Linked DNA regions of Homo sapiens. The protein of the gene in region 2 interacts with the protein of the main gene of each other region in a pairwise test. Each region holds a gene or a part of one and is shown on either strand. Other genes may lie near its edges.

Region 1 (8,448 bases), on a different chromosome or scaffold from region 2:
GTCTTCATAATCACGTAAGCAGAATCTTTTGTTATTTCCAAACTCAATCAGAAACATCATTAATTTCAAAAAGGTATAGATGGAAGCTACACACACAGGTTTTCTATAAGTAAAGAAGGACCCTGAACTGTGGATCTTACAGGATTAAAAACTGGTTATCCAAGGGAACTACGAAAACCTGATCAACTGAAGTCTTTAATAAAGGACTAATGATGGTTGCTCTACAATGATTAATTCTATAAAAAAAAAAACTTTACATTGAGATTCTTTCAACATATCCTATCCCACGAATAACTTTACTGTTAACCGACCACTCTCAGTATAGTAACACTGATACCAACAATAGAGCCAAACCCTGTCCTCCAGGATACTAGCAAACTAACCTCATTTCTATATATCCACTTTTCTTGCAAGTCTAAACAAGAAGTATGGGAAGTGGCATAGAGGAGCTTTTTGGCTGTCTTTATGGGTTTTCATTTTGAGACACAGTCTCGCTCTGTTGCCCAGGCTGGAGTGTAATGGCACAATCTCGGCTCACTGAAAGCTTCACCGCCCGGGTTCAAGCGATTCTCCTGCCTCAGCCTCCCAAGTAGCTAGGATTACAGGCATGCGCCACCACACTCGGCTAATTTTTGTATTTTTAGTAGAGATTGGGTTTCACCATGTTGGCCAGGCTGGTATCGAACTTCTAACCTCAAGTGATCTGCCCGCCTCGGCCTCTCAAAGTGCTGGGATTACAGATGTGAGCCACCGCGCCCAGCCTGTCTTTATGGTTTAACCAAGAGATCTGCCTATTCATCCAAGTAACTCATTGTCTAGAAAAGAGATGGACATATGCATAGCAACAAACGGCTTTATCAAGTCCAAGGGCAAAACAAGGTGGGGCTATATTGACAAGCTCCCCCCAACCCCCGCTTCAGATTATTTTTAATTCATTGAGTGCCAGGTATTGTACAAAGTGCTGAGATAATACAAAGGATGAGAAAAACGGACGCAGGCCCAGAGGGAGCTCACAGACTGATGGCACCGCAGACATGCAGCACATGACACAGACACGTGCAGGCATCCCCCAATATCCAAATCGAATGGGACCGCAGTTACGGACAGTAACTTCAGATCATGAGGGATGCCATGCTATCACATCTATTTGGTTCCCGGGTTTTGGAGAAAATAGCATTAATGAATAATGAGGGGCACCAGCCCTATTTCAGAAAGATGTCTCTAAAACTGTCTAGTTCCTGGCCAGGTATGGTGGCTCATGCCTGTAATCCCAGCACTTTGGGAAGCTGAGGCGGGTGGATCACGAGGTCAGGAGTTCGAGACCAGCCTGGCCAGCATGGTGAAACCCCGTCTCTACTAAAAATACAAAAATTAGCCAGGTGGGGTGGCGCATGCCTGTAGTCCCAGCTACTTGGGAGGCTGAGGCAGAAGAATCACTTGAACCCAGGAGGCAGAGGTTGCAGTGAGCTGAGATCACTGCACTCCAGACTGGGCGACGGAGCGAGACTCCATCTCATGTTCCTGTGTTTGGGTAACAAGAATTTGGAGAGAGAGAATTCAGGTAATGAGGCAACCTGTAAATAAAGCCTGTGGTGGCCAGGCATGGTGGCTCACACTTGTAATCCCAGCACTTTGGGAGGCCGAGGCAGGCGGATCAGTTGAGGCCAGGAGTTTGAGATCAGCCTGGCCAACATGGCGAAACCCTGTCTCTAATAAAAACACAAAAATTAGCAAGGTGTGGTGGCACAAGCCTGTAATTCCAGCTACTTGGGAGGTTGAGGCAGTAGAATCTCTTGAACCCACATGGTGGAGGTTGCAGTGACCCAAGATGGTGCCACTGCACTCCAGCCTGGGCAACAGGCTAAGACTCCATCTCTCAAAAAAAAAAAAAAAAAAAGCTTGTGGTAAGGGCTCTGAAGGCCAGGAGCAGATGACTGAGGGAGATCTACTCTAGGTGACAGGAAAGGCTTCCCCAATAAAACATGGTGGAGCTGAGTGTGAACTAAAAGACGCCTACAAATTGGTTAGGCATGGAGTCTGAAAAATAGAGGGGTCGGGGGGAAAATTCTGTCAGTATTGACAAAGACCCAGTGGACAGAGGGCAGAGGACACCTTAAGCATTTGAGGAACTGAGGAAAAGTCAGTTTGCTGGCCCAAATCACATCTTGCAGCTTGAGTTAGGGGTTTTGGTCTTTATCCTAAGCTGAAGTCACTAGAAGATTTTTCAGTAGAAGAATGACCTGGTCAGATCTGTGTTTTGAAAGGATTGTTCTAGCTCCTGGGGAGAGAAGGGATCAGAGCGGGTGCAGAGGAATGTAAGAACCCTCAAGATACAGCAGTGGGGGCAGACAGCACTTTCAAAGACTATCAGAAGGAAGGAGGAGGAATTTCACCAGGTGACCAAACTCTTATCTGGTGCTACAGAGCACCAACTCAGACAGTCACTGATGTCCCCAAGAATGAGGTGGCTGTGGGTCATTAGAAATCAGTGCTGCCTGTCACAAACCTCAAAAGACTAGGAGGAAAGGAAGCATGGCAGCTAATACTGGCCTTCCACTGGAGTGTTCCTTATTCAATAAGGGGCCAAAATGGAATTCAAGGGGAAACTTATGGAGATCCCCCTTTTCCACCACAAAATAGCTGTTTGTTTAAATTCCTGCATATGTCTATAAGTCAGATGTCTGGAGATGACAGCAAGAAGTTCATATCACACTTTCACAACTCTTAGGAGTCAAGACCTTTCCTCCAAATATAGCAGTACACAAATAGGGCTTCCGACTTGAAAGGGAGTATATCTCAGCTTCTCCACTTCAATCCCTTTTTTTTTTTTTTTTTTTTTTGAGACAGGGTTTCACTCTGTTACCCAGGCTGGAGTGTAGTGGCGCAATCATGGTTCACTGCAGCCTTGACCTCCCGGGTAGCTGGGACTACTGGCACGCACCACCACGTCTAGCTAATTTTTGGCAGAGATGGGGTCTCACTATGTTGCCCAGGTTGATCTCAGACTCCTGGGCTCAAGTGATCTGCCTGCTTCAGCCTCCCAAAATGCTGGGATGACACATGTGAGCCACTGCACCCAGCCTCCACTTCAACTACTTTACCATCAGGCTAAAGAAACTGAGGTCTGGGAAGATTTACTAATATCCTCTCATCCCAATTAGTCTTCAGGTAATACATTTTTCCTAAAGCACACATATTACTTTTGGTTAAATATTTTGCGGATATCAGGTAATACAGAAAGGATTTTTCTTTTTCCTCTTACTGTATGATGAGGAAATCTACACATTCTGATTTATTTTTAACTAAGCAGATTAAATAAAATACCACAATATTTTATCAAGGTATTCTGAAGTTTAAGAATCTATATGGTAGAATCATGAAATTGCCGTAACAGAATTTTGTAAATGGCCAGGGATAATGAGACCCCATTTCTACAAAAAATAAAAAAATTAGCCAGAGGCCAGGCATGGTGGCTCACTCCTGTTAATCCCAGCCCTTTGGAGGTGGAGACAGGCAGATCTCTTGAGGCCAGGAGTTTGAGACCAGCCTGGCCAATATGGCAAAAGCCCGTCTCTATTAAAAATACAAAAATTAGCCAGGCATGGTGGCATATGCCTATGATACCAGCTACTTGGGAGGCTGAGGCATGAGAATTGCTTAGACACAGGAGGCGGAGGTTGCAGTGCGCCAAGCTTGCACCACTGCACTCCAGCCTGGGCAACAGAGCCAGACACTGTCTCAAAAAGAAAAAAAAAATTAGCCAGGTGTGGTGGTGCACACCTGCAGTCCTATCTGCTTGGGAGACTGAGGCAGGAGGATCACCTGAGCCCTGGAGTTTGAGGCTGCACTGAGCTATGACAGTGCCAGTGCACTCCAGCCTGGGTGACAGAACCAGGCTCTGTCTCTAAATACATAAGCCAAAAAACACTTGGGGACATGGAAATATTGTCTCTTTGGGTAGGGTTACATGTATGTATACAATAACACTTAAGATCTGCGCATTTTAATATATGTAAATCATACCTCAACTTAAAAAAAAGAGAGAGGGGAAGATACCAAGAGCCTCGTTTTCTTTACTCTATTGCTTGGAGTACAGGAGCCCTAGCTTCATCAGTCTTAAGAGAAGGTCTCCAACAGGAGGAGTAAGTTCTCGTGTTCTATAGCACTGCAGGATGCCTATAATACTATATAGTTTCAATTAACTAGAAGGAAGATAATGGATGTTCCCAACACAAATAAATCATAAACATTTGAGATGATGGATCTAATTACCTCGATCTAATTACTATACATGATATATATGTAAAAAATCACTATGTACCCCATAAATATGTACATTTATATCAATTTAAAAAATAAAAAGAGAAGGTATCTAGATAAGTGTTTTATACCTATCCCATCACTCCCATATTACACATGGATATTCAGAAATTGTTCTTAGCTATAGAAACTTTAAGCATATTTATGACACTATGTGTCATAAATAGATCCTTGTTTTAGAGTGTGTGAGTAAATTCATTTCAGTCTAATTCAAATTAGAATACACTAATATAACATTGTCTAAATTTCTTTAAAAATATACAAGTAAAGCCATGTTATAATCTTATTTAATTCTTAGAAAAAAGTAGTACTTTCCAGGAAATGTAAATTAATACATAGCAATAAAGTAGTCAATGACTTTATTCCTAGTGGGAATTCAAACCAAATCACAATTTATTGAAATGACTAGTTCAAAGTTTACTTTAAAACTGCTGACATATATGTAAATCTCCAGTAATGGATGAAAGGCAATTTTTATTTTGGTTTCAGGCAGGAACCATGGGGAGTTGAATTTCTGCACAGAATAGTTATTTAAAAGACTGAGTAATCTACCATTTTTGAAGACATTTAGAATTTCACAGAAGGTCACACACACACACACACACACACACACACACACAGCTAATTTTATTTACTGGGGCTGCTCTATAAGTGGCAAAACTAGAGTTTTCATGGTCTCACTGCCATGGTTTCAATCAAAAGGCTGAATGACCTCAATTCAAAGTGGCTATGAACAACAGCAATCTTGAGCTAAAAATCAATTTAAAACACCAACTTCAAAGTTTGGAAACTCCACTGATAGAAAATGAAACAGTAATAGGAGTTGTTAAAATGTACAAAACACACCTTCCTCTCCCTTCATAGTTGGATAATTTCAAGGTATATTTTCAGTTTAACCTGGTTTCTCTTCATCATTTAACATTCTATTTTCATGTGTAGTGCCCTGTACTTCCTGTTACTACATCTTGATATTCTACTGCAAATCATGACTCATCCTTAAATCACAGAGAAACTCATCAAAATCCAAAATTTCACAGCACATAGGAACTCAGTCTTTCAAGAGGGCAGCATTCTTAGAACATTACTTGAACCACAGAGGACAAAAAACACTGAACAAGTCTATGAAGAAATTATGTCAATCCATGGTTGAGCCAACACATTTATTAGATCAATAAATAGAAGCTCTATGTGATAATTTCGGTCTCGGTACTAATTATTAAAATGTGTTACATGTTAAGTGAAAAAAGTTATAAAACAGTAAGTACAGTGTGCTTTCAATTAAAAATGGTATGTGCATGTGTGGATATACATAGACACACATATGCATTTTTTTAAAAAACTGAACAATTACACATCAAAAGGTAAACAGTGGAATTATGGGAGATGTCTATTTTTTTATAGCAGTTTTCTGTATCTTTGTAAGGCAATTCACATTAATATTTTTTACAATAGGAAAAAAAACAACCAACCTTTAGAAGATACTATTCTGCTAGCATGGTCTCAAAGTGTGTTATAAGTCGATCTATACAGGCAAAGAGGAATTAAAGATAACCAGGACATAAAAAACTTTTGCCTGAAACATACAAGAAAATCTAACAAAAATGGAGTCCCCTTCCCCTCTCATCTGCGTATTTATGTACAGAACCTTAGGAAAGGGTCAGAAGACAGTCATCTGGGCTCTACAGCCAGAACAAAGCCAGAATGGACAGACAGCCCATTTCTTTTAAACTTTAATGAGACAGCTGGTACAGAGGTTCACACCTGTAACCCCAGCTACTGCGGAGGCTGAGGTGGGAGCATCACTTGAGCCCAGGAGTGCAAGGCCAGCCCTGGCAACATAAACAATTAAAAAAATAAAGTTTCATGAGGAAGTCCAGGTCTGGGAAACATGGAGATGACTGAGTCATTCCTTAGAATTGGAAGGCAACAAAACTAACGATTAGTAAGCAGCAACTCACCCTCAGTGAAAAAAGACTCTACTCCAGGAAGTCACATTCTTGGATAGTTTTCTATGAAGTGTTTTGGGTTGTCATCAGGTCATGTTTTGCAACATTTCACAGCACCATACTGGTCTTCTGAATCAGATAGATATATAAATATAATTGGGTCCCACAGAACACACAAAATCCAATATCTGACAGCTAAGAAGGGAATATTTTAATTTACATACACTGCCTGGAAGTCCTTTAAAACCAATTTCAGGAAAAGATTCAAGTTCCAAAAAGTTATTACAAATATAAATTTTAATATATGACCTCAGAGTTACATGTACTGTATATTAGCACTTTTGACTTATTTAATTTTTTATATAAGAAAAAGAGGAGGTCTTTAATAAATGTTTAGGTTAACTTCAAAACTCAAATGGAGCTGGCAAATCACTGCTCTCCCCTATCTGGACTACTGCCATTCTGGTCTCAACAGCATTGGTACCAAGTGCATGAAGATGCTATACTTGCAGAGTTTCAGAGATGGATGGCCTAATTCAGGACATAAAGGGTACACCATCACAAGGTCACCATCCGTATGTCACTCTATTATTGCATGTTACTGACCAAAAAGAGAAAGAGAAAATTCATGAATGCTATGTTACGTATGTGGCCAAAATTACAGATGATGACTTTTAAATGTCCTATTTGTTGACTGAATGCGTGTTAAAGAGCTTTCATCATCTTCATCATCATTAAAGTAAATAAGATTTTTCTCAATCCACTATAGACATTTTGGGCAAAAAAAATTCTTTCTTGTGCATTGTTGACTGGTTAGCAGCACCCCTGGCGTCTACCCTCCAGAAGCCAATGCACCCCCTTAGTTATAACAACCAAAAACATCTCCAGACATTGCCAAATGTCTCCTGGGAGGTAAAATTACTCCTAGTTGTGAACCACTAACGTAAATGAACCTATGTGTCCCAAATAATTACTTAGAAGGAGGAATTCTAAATACTCCCTTTTTTATTTAAAGGAAATGTACTCTGGAGAGAGTTTACAACCTCCATTCTTAAGGAACACTCATGCAAAATGTATGAGATCTCGTAAGTCTTTTTTCTTACCTATTATAAGTTTTGTTAGCCTACTCACAGCTTTCAATGCTACAATTTATTGAGCACCTACTCTGTGAAGGCATAGCATTAGGGACATCCTGTACTCATGTCCACTGACTCATACCCCGGTCGGGCTGTTTGGGCTGTTTTTAGGACAACTTTGCCACCGTAAAAGAACTGCCAACACCTTAAAAGCAACATGTCTTTGTCAATAAAGGGGCCCCATCATTCCAATCAGGTTCCTTTTGACCCTTTTTAGTAACGCCACACATTTCTACGCAACATTTAAATTAAAAAAAAAAAAAAAAAAAAACACTTTTAGAGGGCAGAAGGCCTTTGCTATATTTGGCATAGAAAGGCCATCACTTTTCAAACTCAGGGGGGTTTCTAGGCAGGATCATTACTGGAAACTCTAAGAACACTTATGGACAGTCTCCTTAACTGCCTGACCCATGTGCCCTCCTAACACAATTTGTAATTTTATCATCCTCATAAATTGAAACTCCTAACTGACCTTTTCCAAATAAATGGGTGCCATGGCGAGAGAGAAAGAAAAAGAGATCAGAGGGTATTTTGTAAGGCTCACAAATCGATTTCGGCTCATGAATAGATGCCTGGAACATGCTCCACACCCCCCCCACCCCCAAAGACAAGCACAGATGGAGAAGATGGGTGTGTGTGAGCTGCTTATCTCCCCCCACCTCTCAACACACATACACACGCGGGAAAGAAAAACCTGCAAATCTGAAATCCAAAATGGCCAAAGTGACTTCAAAGTTTTCAAGACATGTCCTGAAAAGGCTCGTTGGGCGGCTGCACCCCTAAGTAAATAAAGCCATAACTTGTCTCCTTCCCCAGCGCCGGGCTCCCAGGCTGACAGTGGCTGCACAAAACCCCTCCTGTGCCGAGCAGCGGAAACTCCTAATGAGATTAGTTGGTGTGTGTGCAGACATTACTTAGCAATGACTAAGGGGGCTCTCTCTTCCTGCAGCAGCCAGTGGAAAATTCAAGGAACTTTTTCCCCCTGCAGCAGCAGAATCCCTTTAACCCTCTCCGCAGCCAACTCCAAAAACAACTCAGCCTCCCCT
Region 2 (9,433 bases):
CCCTGAACTGTCTTGTGACTTTGAGCAAGTAACCTAAATTTAATGAACTTCTATTTGCTCATCTAGAAACCAAGGGATATAGTGCTCAGATTGTCAAATTTATTCAGTATAGGATAATACACAATTTCTAGTTACGGTCTCTAGTGGCTTTTTAGTGACATCAAAGTCCATAAAGCTACTAAAATTGTGTAGAAATATCACAATATAATCAATCAGTTTTTTTCAAGCATAACCCATTATAAAGAAATATATGAATAAACAATCTTACATCAGAAATCAAAGAAGAAAAATCACGAGATAATCTGAATAACTGGTCAGTAGGTAAAATCTGTTCTAAGTGATCCTAAGTAAACTAGTTATCTCTCCTCCTTCTGCCATTGAATTTAGTAGAATTTTTTCTTATGTTTTGATGTGTGTGTGTGTGTGTGTTTGTGAATAAATGTGTGCTTGTATTTGTTTTGAGGGAGTTGGTAAATTAACCCATTGGCATATTTACATATTTCTAGTTATGTTTACAAATTTAAATAGGTTGCCTAAGATCCATACCCTGGTGTCTTTCTTGTAATGGAGCTTAAGTACGCTCTACTAAGCTACAAGAAAAACATCCTATGCTTTGACTGTGATTGGAACTTTGCAAGCTAGTAGACATGCCTTTACAAGCAATAAAATGAAGCTGTCAGCCATTGCAAATGGACCAAAATAGAGGCCACACGACTAAAGCACCCCTGCACCAGGCAGTCTCTGATGTATTTTATTCCAGTTTCAATCTATTAATCAGAGGAGTTGGGAGAGCAATAATTTAAACACTACAATAATCAATTCCATAACACATTAATAGAAGCTACAGTTAAACTTTTCCACACCACTGACTGCATTGGAACCTTGACAGGAGCCCTAGGGCCATGCCTAATTTGCATTAAATTTACATAGAATTATAAATCAAGAATACATGAACACAGCCCTAATGTTTGTTAGTGCTTAGATCTTTCCTGATAGATACATTGAAACTGCTGGTGGTTGGGCTTCACTTGCAATAAAATTGTGCAGCTGATCAGCTTTGTTCTCATTCTGCAATTATGGCGAAAGAAACCCAATTGAGCAACAGTTTGGGGGTATGTGAGTGCCATTTAAGGTTTTTATCCTGTAAAACGATGACTCAGATGTGCCCTTAGATCCCCCAATCTAGAAGCAAATTGTCCCCAATTACTTTGCAGATCTTTGTCACTGGATTTCATCACCAGTAACTTGTCATTAAGTAGAGATACAAACTACATAGAAACCTGAACAGCTGAAAAAATAAAAAGTCCTCTGGAAAATTTTATTTTTTCAGAAGAACTTTGCTATCACAAAAAAGATAATTAGTGCTAATCTTCAGGGTGAGGACAGATAAACCCAAACTTTCTTAAACTCAGCAAAGCATCTGGTACCTAACAGGGTGGAAAAGTGTACTTCATATGGCCCTAGGCATTCTGTGTGTTCTGGTATCCCTGATTTACATTGTTCCAACAGCTGTGGCTTTTGCCGTGTGTTTTCACACTCAGGGCTAGGTGAAAACATTCTCACCAATGTTACTGGCTCTCAGTAACAGGAGTACACTCTCTATATTGTTTTGGGTCCTCTCATTTTAAGTGTCTTTTTAGACAGAAAATCGATACTTAAGTCCAATAATATCTTTGGGAATATTTCTTTTCAGGAAGGATTCTGCAAATATTTTGTACATTATTATTCTGCAACTCCCACCTCTTTCTTACCACCCTTCTATCCCACACTTTCCTTACCTTGTACGATCAAGTAAACTTGGGAGGTCTTGGGCTCATGCTGTGTCTGAACTGAGCAAGTGTAGGAACCCTCATCATAGACATCCACCTTCTGGATTCGGAGGCTGTATTCCAGAGAATGGCGTTTCTCCAGCTCAACCCGTGGGTCCAGAGACCACTTGTCATGTCCAGCAAAAATGATGCCAGAACGGTTCAACCAGGCCACCTTTGAGTTCTTGTCTTCTACAACGCACCTGACAGAGCAGAGTAACAATATTAGTGCCTTAACAACAACTATTTCTGCGTTTCTTCTCTAGGTGATCAGACTCAACAAGTCTAAACAAGGAAAATAATTATATGCAGAATGAATTATTGCCATGCCATTCTTGGAGTCCTTAGAATTTTCACTATTTCATTTAAGATCTAATTACCATCCAGTGGATGGATGTCATTATATTAGACTCAGTTCAGCAATAAACAATCTGAGTATGAGTAATGAAGGCAAAGTTAAATTAGTATTGACTTCCCATTATCTTCTTCTTGTTTAGGAAAAGGCCACTCACTCAGAACTCCGTCTGTTTAAGTAATTTTGAGAATTATACAATTGATATCATAGCACTTTTACTCCATCTTGAACTGTGTTTACTCTTTTATAAGTATTTCCTATAGTATTGTGTAATGATAGATTAAAGTTATACTCCACCATTATAGGAATTAGACTAGACTTCTGAGTTTACTTCTAATCTTTACAAGTTTGGGATGCCACTTCCAGGAGTAAAAATTGTGTGAGCAGATCCAAGCATAAGGGGATAGGTGTTATGACAAGGAAATCAAAGCAAACATCATCTGGCATAAGTTTGGTTCCAGCTGCTGAAGGCAGAAGCTTGTTTGGTGGCAAGTTAGGTTGCTACCAGCATTTCTAGTCACACTAAATGCAGGCAATCTTTAACAAAGATGAAGAAGCCAATTTTGTAGTTTATAGACCAATAGATCAAAAAGGGTAAAGGAATAACGCTTAATTGAATTACTGCTTTAAAAAACTTAAAAGGGTCTCTTTCTGAAATTTGAAAGGGGCAAAGAACATGCATTAGTGAAGGAGGGGTAAATACTTTTTGGTGAGTATGGTTTTCTCCTTCAGTTCCAGCAAGAGTCTTGCAATGGAAAAATCTAGCAGAAAACAAAAACAAAAAAACCTTCTGTCTGCATCCCTGTGGCAAGATTTATGTCTGCCCCATAGGGAGATGTCCCAAACCCTGTTCACAGCTGCAAAGCCAGCTGCTCAACACTCTGGAGCAGGAGGGAATGAACAGAAAGAGCCACGAGCACCACAGCAGGACTATTAAGACACCCTGTTCCCCTGTATTTTCTAAGCCAAGTAAAATCCAGTTTTTATCTCAGGTCAAAACAACTAAACATAGACAGAAAATTGATGCATAACCCATAGGCTGTCCCACATGGAATATAAAGGCCAACTGTGTCTCTTACAAGAAAGATAACAGCTAAGTCTTTTTAAATACTCCATTTATGGTATAATACAAAGACCTCCTTATCCTATTAATTTTAAACGAATTGTATATGTTATTTAGAGGGAGATTTTTTTTTTTTTTTTTGAGACAGATCTTGTTCGGTCACCAAGACTGGGGAGCAGTGGCCTGATCATAGCTCACTGCAGCCTCAAACTACTGAGCTCAAGCAATCCTCCTGCCTCAGCCTCCTAAGTAGCTAGGATGATAGGTGCATGCCACCAGGACTAGCTAATTTAAAAAAAAAATTAGAGATGGGGTCTTGCTGTGTTGTCCAGGCTAGCCTCAAGTGATCTTCCCAACTTGGCCTCCCTAAGCACTGGGATTATAGTCATGAGCCACCATGCCTGACCCTAGAGTAAGAATTTGACTTAATAAGTTGGGTGCCAAGATACACAGGTCTTACTTTTCTTCTTTACCTATTTGTTTTCATAAACATAACTAGATTTAGGTATCATTTAACATCTCCATTTCCCAGTATGTGCTTCTCTGCCATGCATATATTATTGAGTATAATTTATGTGTTTAATAATTTAGAGGCCTTTTATCATGAGCACCAAGCTAACTTCATGAATGCTTGCTGCCTCATTCCAGACTCAGTTTTACTTTTGCTGTTCTCCTCTCTTGTGGCATCATTTCTCTGTTCTTGGTGATGTTTGCCGCATCTCTGAATTTAAAATCATTGATGAATTAATTAATAGGATGTTTGGTGTCTTACTCTAGACCATTATGAAATTGTTGAATGTAGATTTACCATGTTTTTTCTATTCTAGTAAGAAGGATAGAAATTTACCTGTGTAAATGTGTTTTAAATCTTCTATCATTTTTCCCTGTGCATGTTTCTCACCTGCACAGCGTAACACAAGAATGGTCAGATTTGCTACATTATAGATGTATTCTGAATGCCTCTTAGCACCAAATATGGCTCCAATCTCTTCACTTTAAAAGAAAAAATACCACGTAATATAGCTTACCTAAATATGGCCTGTGAATCCAATAAAAACAGCAAATTTTTACCTTATTCATTTGGATACCACCAATAACTAATCTAGGATAAAACAGGCATTTGATAAATGCCTGTCCTGTGAACTAACTGGGTCACACATGCAGATACAGGACATTTGGTAACCTATATTCCACGTCCCCATCCCAAGTCCTATAGCACCCACAAATAAATTGGACAGATTTCCTTAACAATATAAGGTAAAGTTTATAAGTCGGGTCTTTATGGTCCTTTGACATTTTAGCAAATTTCATTCATGGAAAAGTTAAAGTCATACGGATCATTATTCCAAATTATTCTTTGAGGGTGTTCAGCTCTATCTTACCTAAAGAAGTAATTGACCATTTCAGCAAAATTGCCAGATGCATAAAAGTGCATCTAATGAAACAATGTATTATGTGGAAATTTTGTTATGACAATTTACATAGCACCTTGTTTTTGATCTGGGTTTTATCCGTATTTATTTTTAAAATTCGTCTTTTACTGACAAACAAGTGAATAGTATATTAGAATACACATATACTTTTTTTTGTTTTGTTTTGTTTTTGAGATGGAGTCTCGCTCCGTCGCCCAGGCTAGAGTGCAGTGGTGCAATCTCAGCTCACTGCAAGCTCTGCCTCCCAGGTTCACGCCATTCTCCTGCCTCTGCCTCCCGAGTAGCTGGCACTACAGGCGCCTGCCACCACGCCCGCCTAATTTTTTGTATTTTTAGCAGAGACGGGGTTTCAGCGTGTTAGCCAGGATGGTCTCAATCTCCTGACCTCGTGATCCGCCCACCTCGGTCTCCCAAAGTGCTGGGATTACAGGCGTGAGCCACCGTGCCCGGCCTAGAATACACATACTTTTTCCTAACTCAGATGGTTAGCCAAACTCCAAGCACCAGAACACAATACAGTATAGTGTTTTTAAAAAGGAAACCATTTCAAGGAGAAATTTGTTTAAAATAAATATATCTCAATGGAAAAAAAATAAATAAATAAAAATAAAATAAAAAGGAAACCACTTCTCCAGATCTTTCAGGGTTCCTTTTTATGTACTCAGTAGTTGCAAAATAAATCTATTAGCTCTATAAACTGGAAAATAATCCTTCTACAATGTGACTAAAACTTTCTTAATAAAAAATGAGTAAAGGAATAATGCAATTTCAGAACTAAATATTTTCTTAATTTTAGAATCTTAATTTAAGGTGGCACCTATTTTTTTTAATCATAAAAAGTACACATGAAAAAAAATGGTAGGACCAGGCACGGTGGCGCATGCCTGTAATCCCAGCTCTTTGGGAGGCTGGAGGCAGGAAAATCACTTGAACTCAGGAGTTCAAGGCTACAGTGAGCTATGATCACATCACTGCACTCCAGCCTGGCCAGAGTGAGACCTTGTCTAAAAAAAAAAAAAAAGAAAGAGAAAGAAAAGAAAATATAGTAAACCAGAATCAGTAGTTTCAATTTGTAGAGGTCTACGTTTATTAAGAGATAATAACTAGTCATACAGTGTACTGACAGACCACCTGGCTATCTGGAAATAAGAAATGCTGATATAAATACAGACCCAGGTTCCCAGCATTCACTGAATCACCAATAAGCATCATGGGCTTGCATCTCTGAGGTCTGCTGGCTCAACTGTGCATTAGGCAGGCTTGTGGAGTAAATGAGAATTCTCGGGCCATGCCATTATAATATGATAATAATGAATTATCACCTACCTAGAATGTTGCTGCAATTTAGTTCTAAACTTTATACTTAATGATTTTGTTTCGGGGGACCTGCCCCGGAAAATCACGTAGGTTCTTTTCTATTTTCCTAAGCGTCGGCTGGCTTGAGAAATAAAAGGACAGAGTACAAAAGAGAGAAATTTTAAAGCTGGGTGTCCAGGGGAGACATCACACGTTGGTAGGATCCGTGATGCCCCACAAGCCACAAAAACCAGCAAGTTTTTATTAGGGATTTTCAAAAGGGGAGGGAATGTGTGAATAGGTGTGGGTGACAGACATCAAGTACTTAACAGAGTAATAGAATATCATAAGGCAAGTGGAGGCAGGGCGAGATCACAGGACCACAGGACCGATGTGAAATTAAAATTGCTAATGAAGTTTCGGGCACCATTGTCATTGATAACATCTTATCAGGAGACGGGGTTTTGAGATCAACCGTCTGACCAAAATTTATTAGGTGGGAATTTCCTCTTCCTAATAAGCCTGGGAGCGCTATGGGAGACTGGAGACTATCTCACCTCTGCAATCTCGACCATAAGAGACAGGTACGCCCCTGGGGGGCCAGTTCAGAGACCTACCCCCAGGTGCGCATTCTCTTTCTCAGGGACGTTCCATGCTGAGAAAAAGAATTCAGTGATATTTCTCCCATTTGCTTTTGAAAGAAGAGAAATATGGCTCTGTTCTGCCCGGCTCACCGGCGGCCAGAGTTTAAGGTTATCTCTCATATTCCCTGAACAATTGCTGTTATCCTGTTCTTTTTTCAAGGTGCCCACATTTCATATTGCTCAAACACACATGCTGTACAATTTGTGCAGTTAATGCAATTATTACAGGGTCCTGAGGTGACATACATCCTTCTCGGCTGACAGGACTAAGAGACTAAAGTAAAGACAGGCATAGGAAATCACAAGGGTATTGATTGGGGAAGTGAGAAGTGTCCATGAACTCTTCGCAATTTATGTTTAGAGATTGCAGTAAAGACAGGCATAAGAAATTACAAAAGTATTAATTTGGGGAACTAATAAATGTCCATAAAATCTTCACAATCCACGTTCTTCTGTCATGGCTTCAGCCGGTCCCTCCGTTTGGGGTCCCTGACTTCCCGCAACAATTTTATCTCTAGAATCAACCTGGGCTAAAGCAGGAAGATAAAAAGATGTATTTCAAAAACCTGTTAGTGTTATGTGTTGTTTTAATAGAATGTTGTCTTGAGGAACACATGATGTTGCAAATAATTCCCAGGTTTAGAAAGAACCGGACCCTAATGACAATGGGTGTTAGTGCCACGAGGAGAGGATCAGAGAATATCCTTCCGCTTTGGGTGGGTTTTATGGAAGGCAGCTGAGGACATGGACGTATGCTATAAAGTGCCACCTCTTCAGAAAATCTTCTCTCGTCAGTGTAACCTTCTTAAAACTTCCTTTTTATGACCTTATCATACTCCACATTGCATTAGAGTTATTTGCACTCATCTTTTCTCATAAGCTTATTAAGACAGTGACCTTCTTGTAATTCACCTCTGGAGCCCTCACTGAGCCTAAATACCATGTGCATAAATACCATGTGCATAGTAGATACTTGCTGAAATGTGGAATAAACAAGCTGAATTTAATTTAACAAATTGCATTAGGTCAATTATAAAATATTCATTAATTATCTAATAGGTACAGTAAAGATGGATAACTATTTTAATATTTCTTAAGAAATAATTAAAGTTATTAGGTATAAAGGGAAATTTAAAGAGAATTATTGAGTGTGGTATTAAAATGAAAGTAAAGGAGAGAAAAAATGTGTTCCTGTGTCCACTATGAAGAAATATCATCTCTAGGAACTAAATGATCTATATTGCATGTGAAAAACTGTGAAAAAAAAGTATAACATCCTAAATAAGTGATTAGGAGGTTGCTCACGTTAATCATGAACCCTCAAATATTAGATGGGTTACCTACTGGAACTGCAAATCTATGATTTTTAAAAAATCATCTCTTAAAAAAATTAGGAAAGGTAAGCACACAAATTTTTATCTTCCCTGTTTAGTATATTTGATTCCATAAAACTGTCACAAAAAATCAATGCACCCATACAAATCTTAAGCATTGAATTTCTTCAAACACTTTACATCAAGTCTATTATGCAGACTTATACAAACAGGTACATTGACAATTCTAGTAACATTGCACAAGAGTGGGGGTTATACTGCTTAAAAAATGAATATAACTGGAGGTAGAAAAGAAATGCTAAAATCAGTTTGTACCAACAGATTACTTAATAGCATATGTACTGACAAGATATCTATGATGTAATTGATACATATCTACCAAATATTAAGCCTGTTCAATTGCTGCTGGACACATTTCATATTTAACAAGCATTAATGGCTGTTAAAAAACATACCAACTTAGGATTCAAATTTGTCCAGACTTAGCCTTGCATAAATTTCCTTCTTTTCTCAAGAGTATAATCTGGTATTTATTCACTGATAACAAATAAATATATTTTATGTAATCCGCACCAGTTATCTATACTCATATTTATACATTGCAGAGGCTGGGAGCAGTGTAACTGGATGGGTAAGAGAAATCTATTTGTTTCTTAAGAAAGAACAGTTAGATAAGTGGTCCCAAGTGAAGGCAATCTGTGCCCCTAGATGACACTGACAATATCTGGAGACATTTTTTGGTTGTCACAACTAGGGAGGGGGTGTTGCTATTGGTTTCTAGTAGGGAGAGGCCAGGGGTGTTGCTAAACATCCTACAATGCCGTGGACAGCCCCCAATCACAAAGATGTATCTTATCCAAAATGTTGACAGGATCGAGGTTGAAATACCCAGATATAGATGTCTGTCTCTTGGTTTACACATCCAGAAGCATAGGACAAACATCTAAAGTGCAGTAGTGTGTTTTCATAGGCTTATGCTTTTTAATTTATACCTACTTAATTGTCAGCAGCAAAGTTCATGACAAAGGCACAGCAATGAGGCCTAGTGAGGCTCTGGTTGTAAGTCGATAGTTAATGATTATAAGTTAGTAGTTAATCATGCCCCTTTTGTTGTTTTACTTTAGTTTCATAATCGTAAAATGATGTAATCATTTCATAACACCCAGGATAGGTAAAGGAGAATCATTTGGAGAAAAATTGATTTTTTTTAAGAAAATTAGTCTTTGTTCATCAGAAAACTTTTTCATTGACCTTTATTATTTTTCACATTTGTGAATCTCCCTCTTTTGTAAGATATGGAAAGATTCAAGATGTGGATGGGAAGGATGTCTTCAAGAATGTTATTTTGATGCTGTTTGCCTTGTAACTTCAATCCTACAAATAAAACCCTTAGTGAATCAGCAAAACTATCATAGAATCATTTCACTCTAGAAGGAAAGATAATTGGTCTGGGAAGTGATGCTATATATTCCCAGCATTAAAATGTGGAATCAGAAAAAT

The links. Proteins that work in one complex are often made in the same cells at the same time.
Region 1: the proteins of LSAMP (region 2) and ELK3 interact in binary tests that used the Homo sapiens proteins (3 or more experiments, as listed by UniProt).

What each region holds. Positions count from the first base shown.
Region 1 is NC_000012.12:96,195,973-96,204,420, reverse strand, and holds part of ELK3 (ETS domain-containing protein Elk-3), read right to left. Parts: intron 6,396-8,448; exon of another isoform or gene 6,279-6,395; intron 1-6,278. UniProt on the Homo sapiens protein: May be a negative regulator of transcription, but can activate transcription when coexpressed with Ras, Src or Mos. Forms a ternary complex with the serum response factor and the ETS and SRF motifs of the Fos serum response element.
Region 2 is NC_000003.12:116,084,546-116,093,978, forward strand, and holds part of LSAMP (limbic system-associated membrane protein isoform 1 preproprotein), read right to left. Parts: intron 2,012-9,433; coding exon 1,779-2,011; intron 1-1,778.